Linked DNA regions of Homo sapiens: region 1 is linked to region 2. Evidence: fine-mapped expression QTL. Tissue or cell type: testis. Region 2 holds a variant in brackets; the other region holds the start of a gene. All regions are shown on one strand. Distances are from middle to middle.

Region 1 (4,121 bases), 66 kb before region 2:
CTTGCCTTTTCTAGCTTCCAGAGGCCGTCTGCATTCATTGGCTCATGATCCCTTCCCCAAATCCCTGTACCCTCTTGCCTCCATTGTCACATTTACTTCCTCTTCTGTCATCAAATCTCTCTCACCTCCCTCCTATAAAGACACTCGTGATTACATTTAGGGCTCATCTGAAAAATTTAGATAATCTTCTCCTCTCAAGTTCCTTCACCTAATCACATCCGTAAAGTTCTTTTTGCCATGGAAGGTAATATTCACAAGTTCTGGGGATTAAAAGGTGGACATCTTGAGGGAGGGGCATTATTCAGCCCTCTACAGCATAGCACGAGAAGCCCGGACAAACAAAGCAAATAAATACCACACTCTCAGACAAAGACACACATATTTCCTAAGAGAGAAACCACAAGTTATAGATAAGATGAAGAAGCCACTTTCAGCTCTGGAATCCAGTTTGGCTTCTTCCAAAATAAGAGCAAACATTTATATTGTTCGTTATGTGTCAGGCATTCTTCTAAGTTCCTTTCTTATATAACTCGCTTAAACTTCACAAAAAGTCATCCTCATTGTATAGAAGAGGAAACTAAAGCACAAAGATGTTAAGTGATTTGCCCAAGATTACACTGAACTAGCAGGGCAAGGATTTGAACTCAAAGTGTCTGATTCCCAAGTTCACATATCATTTGAGATCCAACTTAAAGAATGGATAGGCAGGCTGACACAGTGAGAAATGGAAGGGCATTATAGGCAGAGGAAACAAAGTGAACAAAGGCACTGAGGCAGAGATATGAAAGGGAGATTCAAGCCAGTGAGTAGACTGGGTTGGATGCAGCATAACAAGCCTAGGAGAAGTAGTGGGAGATCAAGCTAGAGATCTAGCTTGAAGTCAGATAGTGGAAGGTCTTGAAACCACAGACACCTGCTGTGGCTGATGAGATCTTTCAGACATTTGAGTAGAGGAGGGGGCTTGTCAGAGTTGGGCCTTGGGAAGACTGATCTGGAAGCAACGTGAAGGCTAGGAGGGAGGAGTGAGAAGGGAGCTGTCCCCGCTTCTCTGCTCCCTTAACACTTTCTATATCATAGAATGTGGCTGTGTGTCTCACCCTCTAGAGAGTGAGCCCCTGGAGGGGAGCTGAGTGTGCTGTCCACCTCTGGCTGCATGTGCCAGTGGGTGATATATTCACCTGTAAAGCACAGTACAGCTAGAGGTTAGGAGACAGGGGAACAGATGCTGGAGCTGCTGCTGCCTATGTTGATGCAAATAACAATACCGTTTGGGAATCAATCTAAAGTGTCTTTGCCTGCATCAGCTGAAGTTTCTTTTAGCATAATAACAACTGTCTGGAAATGTAGGATATGCAGATCTATATTCTAATCTTAGCTCTGTACTTGCTTTTGCAGGATTTGGAGTAGTTTATCAATACCCCAACTTGTTTCTTTTCTCTTTAAAATAAAGTAAAACTATTTTGTTTATAACTATTAACTTGTGAGGTGAGAGTTATCCAGCTTGTCATAGGGATCTGGCATAGAGACAGTACTCAACGTTATTATTATCAATCTATAATATTCTGGTTTTTTTGTTTCTTTGTTTGTTTGATATGGAGTCTCGCTCTGTTGCCCAGGCTGGAGTGCAGTAGTACCATCCTGGCTCACTGCAAGGTCCACCTCCCAAGTTCAAGCAATTCTCCTGCCTCAGCCTCCTGAGTAGCTGGGATTACAGGCGCGCACCACCACGACCGGCTAATTTTTTGTATTTTTAGTAGAGACGGGGTTTCACCATGTTAGCCAGGATGGTCTCAATCTCCTGACCTCGTGATCTGCCCACCTCGGCCTAACAAAGTGCTGGGATTACAGGGGTGAACCACTGAGCCCGGCCGATATTCTTATTTAATTTAGTCACCAAATCGCAGTTAGGACAGTGTTATTATTTTGCCCCGTTTCACAGATGAGGAAACAATCTCAGGGAAAAGAAGGGATTTACTCAAGCCATACAGTGGAGACGTCTGGATTTGAACCTACTGTGTTGGAATCTCAACTATGTGCAAACTCACAAAGGGAAATGAAGCCTTCGGAGGAAGGGCGGGACAAGGGTGACCACACAGGTGAGCGAGATGGGCTTCTAGAAGGACGCCCGCATATCTCTGAGGAACAGAGAAGGCACAGATCAAAAACACCTAGGCTCTTCACCCGTTGGCAGCCAGAGCCTGGGTCCATTGCCTAGGCAGTGGAGAAAAACCTGGTCCCCGCCCAGAAACAGCCTTCAGCGTCCTTAGCGACCAGGGCGGAACAGGCGCCGCCCGCGATGCGGGCCCTGTGATTGGCCGGATTCCTGGGCTCGGTCCCCACGCCCCGTCCCGTCCCCGGGTCTGAGAGTGTCAGCTTCCTGGGGAGAAGCACGGACCGCGCACCTCTGAGCTGCCAGGGTGGGGACGCTGCCCTAGCGGTAAGCCCCCCGACTCTGTTCTCTCCGGGCAATCAGGGCCGACACGCAGCTGCTGGGCAGGGAGGGGATTTGAGGATCACGAGTTCCGGGTCTGGAAGATTCCAGACAGGTGCAAAGAGGCTGCAGGTCCCCGGGATGAGGGGCTGCCCTAGCACAGGTCTTTAGTATTGGACTTTTGGGAAGAACCCTGGCCTAGACATCAGACCCAAGTACTGGAAACAGTCCCGTCCTTCATTCCTCTGTGACCCTTGTCAAATAACACACCCTCTCTGGGCCTTAGTTTTCCAATCTGTGAAGGAGCCTTTGGAGTAGAATGATTTCTAAAGGCCTTTCAGCCTCTGGGTGGTTCTAAAAGGGAGTGTTCAGCTGTGGCCAGATTTACTGAACTTCTGATTTTCCCTTGGCATCACTCTGTTTAAACACCTTGTGCAGGAGTTCAATTTCAGATTCATTGTATTGTTGTAGAAAGAGATCAGTGATAACAACAAAAGTCTGTCTGTCTTGTGTACAGTCTCCCTTCAGATGCATTATCTCCTTGGATTCACCCTCAAGTCCCTGAGAACAGACCTAGAATTACCCTGATCTCATAAATGGGGAAACTAAACATCAGAACTGAATATGGATTCTTCATATGTCCCACTAATGCCCTTGTTTCTGCTCTGACCTCACTGGAATTCCATCCTATGTCTTGTAGTACAGGAAGGTAGAGTCACCTAATGATTCAGTAGATCTGCTGTACAGACCTCTTAGGTGAGATTCCCAAGTCGGCTAATTACTGGTGATGTGATGTGATGTGAGTAAGTCATATAGCTACATTTTGCTTGTTTCCTCAACAGTAAAACAAAAATGATAATAGTAGTTAAAAATATCTTTCTCATGCCTTTGTTAGGAGTGTTAAGTGAGGTAATATAGGTGAAACACTTTGTCCTGCTATTATTATTGCTTGTTGTTATTGGCAAGGATGATGCAGTTCCCTAATGGAAAATCAAGAGGAACAATTTACTTATTTTCACCCCTAGGGATCTGAAGGGATTTTGAAAGGAATCATGTCTTCAGCCTGGAAGACTCCCCGTGGATCAGATGCAATGCCTGAGATCATGGTGAAAATCATTGGAAGTAAACACTTTCAATACCTCGTGGAGAAGCCAAAGATGTAAGTCCATATTTGAAAAATATCTATGTTGCTTGGATGATAATGAAGTTTTATTGTTTTGTTTTCACCCAGAAATTTAAACTTAAAAAATGCCATCCATGGAAAACGAAGTCATTAAGATGCAACAGTAGAGGTAAAATCGTGTTGATAACTTCCATGTGCACTGTTTTCCTGATATTTTTCATCTTTATAATTCCCCATACTCCTTAATTACTTGGGCTGATTTTCCAAATAGATGGGAAATATGAGCATTGCGACATTTATAAATATTAATGGAGCACTGCTGCCTTTTCTCATCGGGCTTGTAATCTACCACATGTACTAATTTTGGGGAGAGTGGGGGAGGTTTAATAGTCAATTTGTTGTGAATTACAGGAGTAGGATTAATACAGAATCATAAATTGTAAGGTTTTCACTTACTCCTGTTTGTATTTGATACTCCTCTAAGCTTGGGCTTCTCAGATCATGGCTAAGATCTCTTTCTTCTATTCCAAACCCATCAGAGTCACATTTAAGAGATGACACTCCTGT
Region 2 (4,268 bases):
ATCAAAGCCCTTTTTAATAAAGATATACAAAGTAGTTTCTGTTTCCTGCATTGGACCTTAAATGATAGAAGTATCAAAAAGCTTATTCAATATCACTACCAATATAAACAGAGCTTCACTGGACATTCTTTCAGGGCAATCATATTGATCACCAATTTATGTTTCCTTTTCTTGCACAGATGGCAGAATTTTGTTGAGATGCTGACCAGAGCTTCTTCTGATTTGTTATCTGATTTGCCTACAGGTGAGTTCCATTATTTTTTTGCTCCAGAGAGACCTTCCATTTTTCACAGCTATTGTTGACTATGCTGCCTAGTTTGAGTGGTTTGCTTGTTGGGTTTCATCTCATTTCTCTCAGAAATGTAAATAGCTCCCCAGTGAAGGAAAAATGGGGGTTAGAATCACCTTAATGGCTATTCTTTTAGGCCAGTTGGATCATAAAAGGCACAATTCTCCAAGTTTTATCATGAGACATTCTCTAGTGGTAGCCCTTATAGATGAATGCAGTACATTTATGGAAGTTAGTATTATTTAGCAGAATTTCAGGTGCACAGTCGCTTAGATCAAAGAAGCTCATAGCTAGGTATTTATTCCACTGATGTCTCCACAAAAAAAAAAAAGACCTGTGAGATGTATATATATGTTTAGTGTATAGGTTTTTTTGGTAAACATTTTTAAAAACAGAAATAGCAGAAAGATCCTTCGTGGGCTATTTAATTAAATTACAATATAACCAATTGATAAAACGATGCAGTTGTAAAATAACATGGCTGGGTTGCTACAGGAAGATTTCCAAGACATATTATTAAGTGAAAATTGTAACGATGCATTGGGGAAAATATTTAGCAATTAGCAAGTTTTAAATATGACAGGTGAAAAAATATGCATTGATATTAATCTGCTGTTGTAGTTTTTCTATTTACTATATCCATCAACCATTTACTGATTGCCCTTTGGATCAAAATTAAAGTACTGAATGTGCACGCATGTGTGTGTGCGTGTGTGTGTGTCCGGGATTAAATATATCAGTCTGTATCCAAGTGGAAAAACCTAAGAAACTTTACTAGGTATTTCAAGCAGAGGGAATTTACTACAGGGGATTGGTTATGTAAGTATCCAAAGCTGAGGGATAAAAAAGAATATGGTGAGTATATTCATTTCCCAGGGCTGCCATACAAAATACCACAATCTTGGTGGCTTAAAACAATAGAAGTTTATTCTCTCAGTTCTGGAGGCTGGAAATATAAAATCAAGGTGTACGCATGGCCAGACTCTCCCTGAACACTCTAGAGAAGAGTTCTTTCTTGCCGGTTTCAGCTTCTAGCAGCCACAGGCCTCCTTTGGCTTGTTATTGTGTAACTCCAATCTCTGCCTTTGTTTTCACAAGGCCTTCTTCTTTCTGTCTTCTATATATCTCAGTATCCAAGTGTTCCTCTTCTTTATCTTATAAAGACAACAGTCATTCCAAGTAGGGCCTGCCCTAATCTAGAATGACTTCATCTTAACTTGATTACATCTGAAAAGATCTTGTTTCCAAATAAGCTCAGATTCACAGGTACCAGTGATTAGGACTTGAACATATTTTTGAGGAGGACACAATTCAATCCACTACAGGGAGGTAATCCAGACATTAGTAACTGTAGAAAGCAGCTACCACCTTAAGGCTAAGGGAACATAGAGGAAGGGGTATTACTATCAGAATCTAGTAGCTAGTGTCACCACACAGATGGTTCTAGGGTCTCCACGGAAATGCCAAGCAGCTGGAGGAAGGATTTCAGAGGGGATTCCATACAGCTGATTCTTGGACTGCGACATAATTTAAGGCTCTAAGAAGGTGGCTGCACTTGGATCTCTTACAAAGCATCATATTTTCAATGAGGAGACCATTGAAGTGATGTCACGTGGCTGTTCATCTGACCTGAGGTTTCACAC[G/A]TGGCTAGGGCTGAGAATGCTGAAAAACATTATAGCAGTAGCTCTTCTGATGCTAGGTGGATACTTGATGTGTCCTCACATGGCTTTCCTCTGTGTGTGTGCATCCCTGGTGTCTCTATAGGTCTAAATTTCCTCTTCTTGTAAGGACACCAGTCAGATTGGATTACAGCCCACCCTAACAGCTTCATTTTTACTTAATCACCTCTTTAAAGGCCCTACCTCCAAATACAGTCAGATTTTGAGATTAGGGATTCAACATATAAATTTGGGGTGGGGGATACACAATTAAGACCATAGCATATGGAATAGCAGAAAAATATGTAAAAAGATAAATTGAAGTCTCACACAACTAAATAACTAACTTATATTGGGACACTTATTTTATTTCTCTCTGACTCATTTTTCTCATATCTAAAATGGGCAAAATATAAAAGAAAAATGCAAACCTGCCCTATTGATCTTATAGGGTGATTGTGAGTCTGACAAACAAAATAGGCAACACATCACTAATTTTTATAGGCAACGTGTCACTCTCCAGAACTACAGAGTTGGGGTAGTGTTGCTGTTGCATTGTTGTTGTGATAGCTCACTGCTTATTTACTTAGTCAATGTCTTGGTCTCTTCTTGTTTCTGTACTGCTGGATCTATGATGACTAAATGCTCTTAAGCACTGAGTGAGCCATTTTTTTCTGTCTATTCTTTAGCTCCACAGGTAAATGTTATCAAAGTGAAGGAGGGGCATTATACAGAAACTTAAAAAAGATACTCCTTATGGGTGTGTAGAACTGTGAATTTTCTCTTTCCTAGGACCTCTCTGCACTCAAAGATGCCATACTAACCTAATTAAAATAACTCATTTTATATATACTGCCTTTATTAGAAAATTTATATCATTAAGAATCATAAAAATCCTGGGAACTTGTTTTTCAATGTACATATAATTTTCACATAAATACTTAATATCTGTGACTTACACTAATGACAAGGAGAGTCTACTTTCCAGCAAGCCAAACCTCCTGGCAAGAATAACTAGAAGATTAGATAAAATCCAAAAGAATATTTGTTCGAAGACTCTTACTTGGAATTCAAACTGAACTACCAGACAGAAGGGGGAGAAAAGCTCTCTGTGAAAGGAGGTATCATACAAAATCTCTTAAGTTTTTCATACAATATGTCCAGCTTCAATTAAAAATTGCCATGGATGATGTAAAGCAGGACATAGATTTTGAAATAACTGTAATTAATATGTTCAAGAAAATGAATGACAAGATGGGGAATTTTCAGCAAAGAATTTGAATCTATAAAAGGAATCAAATGGAATATCTACACTTAAATTTATAAAAATTAAAATTTAAAAGCTCAGTAGATGGGTTTAACAGATTAGACATTGCTGATGAGAGGACCAGTGAACTGTGATATAGTTCAATAGAAAATATCCAGATTGAAGCATGGATGAAAAATTAGGATGTAACACATTTAAAAGTATGTAAGAGTCTGGGTGCTGTGGCTCACACCCATAGTCCTAACACTTTGAGAGGCCTAAGTGGGAGGATCACTTGAGCCCTGGAGTTTGAGACCAGCCTGGGCAACAAGGTGAAACCCTGTCTCTACAAATAATAAAGAAATTAGCCAGGCATAGAGGTGCATGCCTGTAGTCCCAGCTACTTGGGAGGCAGAGGTGGAAAGATCACTTGTGCCCATGAGATCGAGGCTGCAGTGAGCTCTGGTTATGCCACTACACTCCAGCTTGTGCAAAAGAGTGAGACCCTGTCAGAAAAAAAAAAGTATGCAAGAGACACATAGGAAATGGTGACAACATCTAACGTACATGTAACTGAAGTCAAAGAAAAATAGGAGAAAGAGAATAAAGATGAAGTTGAAGCAATTATGACTGAGAAGCTTCCGAAAGTAGTAAAAGACCTTAAGCCACAGATCTAAGAAATATGATGAACTCCCATTAAGACACATATAAAAAGAGCTTAGGCCCCTCTAAACATGGTAAGGTCTAAAGTCTAAAATAGTATTTCACAAAAATGAAGTATGATCTCAAATTTGAATCTCTTCACTGTGGAGCCTGTGAACAAGAGAGAAGAAGAAGAGGATGCAGAAAGCAAAGAGCAGAGTTCCAGTATGACTGCTGACAAGGGAAAATTCAAAGGAAATGAGGAGTAGCGTAAGAGGCTCATTGACACCCCTCAAACATTTCTTGAAGACCTATCACTCAAGAAAACAGAAAAATGGTGAAGGCTTGGCCTCCCTTTTACTAAGGAAAAAAATACTCATACTAGTTACTAATTAGAACTACTTCTGTTGAAGGGAAAGAAAAGCAAACTCAA

Direction of the effects. Alleles are on the strand shown, and positions count from the first base shown. SD is a standard deviation of normalised expression in the study named.
For the expression in testis of the gene that starts at base 2,357 in region 1, A is the high allele of the variant in region 2 and G is the other (small effect, 0.16 SD a copy in GTEx).

What was found. PIP is the estimated chance that this variant, and not a neighbour inherited with it, causes the effect.
Region 1: C1orf87 starts here. The variant in region 2 is the best candidate, but not a certain one, in a credible set for the expression of C1orf87 in testis (GTEx, PIP 0.70).

What each region holds. Positions count from the first base shown.
Region 1 is chr1:60,072,006-60,076,126 of GRCh38, reverse strand. C1orf87 (chromosome 1 open reading frame 87) reads left to right here and starts at 2,357. Exons shown (of 12, transcript NM_152377.3): 1 at 2,357-2,437; 2 at 3,457-3,590. The coding sequence starts at 3,484.
Region 2 is chr1:60,006,368-60,010,635 of GRCh38, reverse strand. C1orf87 (chromosome 1 open reading frame 87) reads left to right here. Exons shown (of 12, transcript NM_152377.3): 9 at 180-244. Among named protein-coding and RNA genes, the nearest start is that of C1orf87, 65 kb to the left of the region's middle. The variant G/A (reference allele first, on the strand shown) is at 1,933.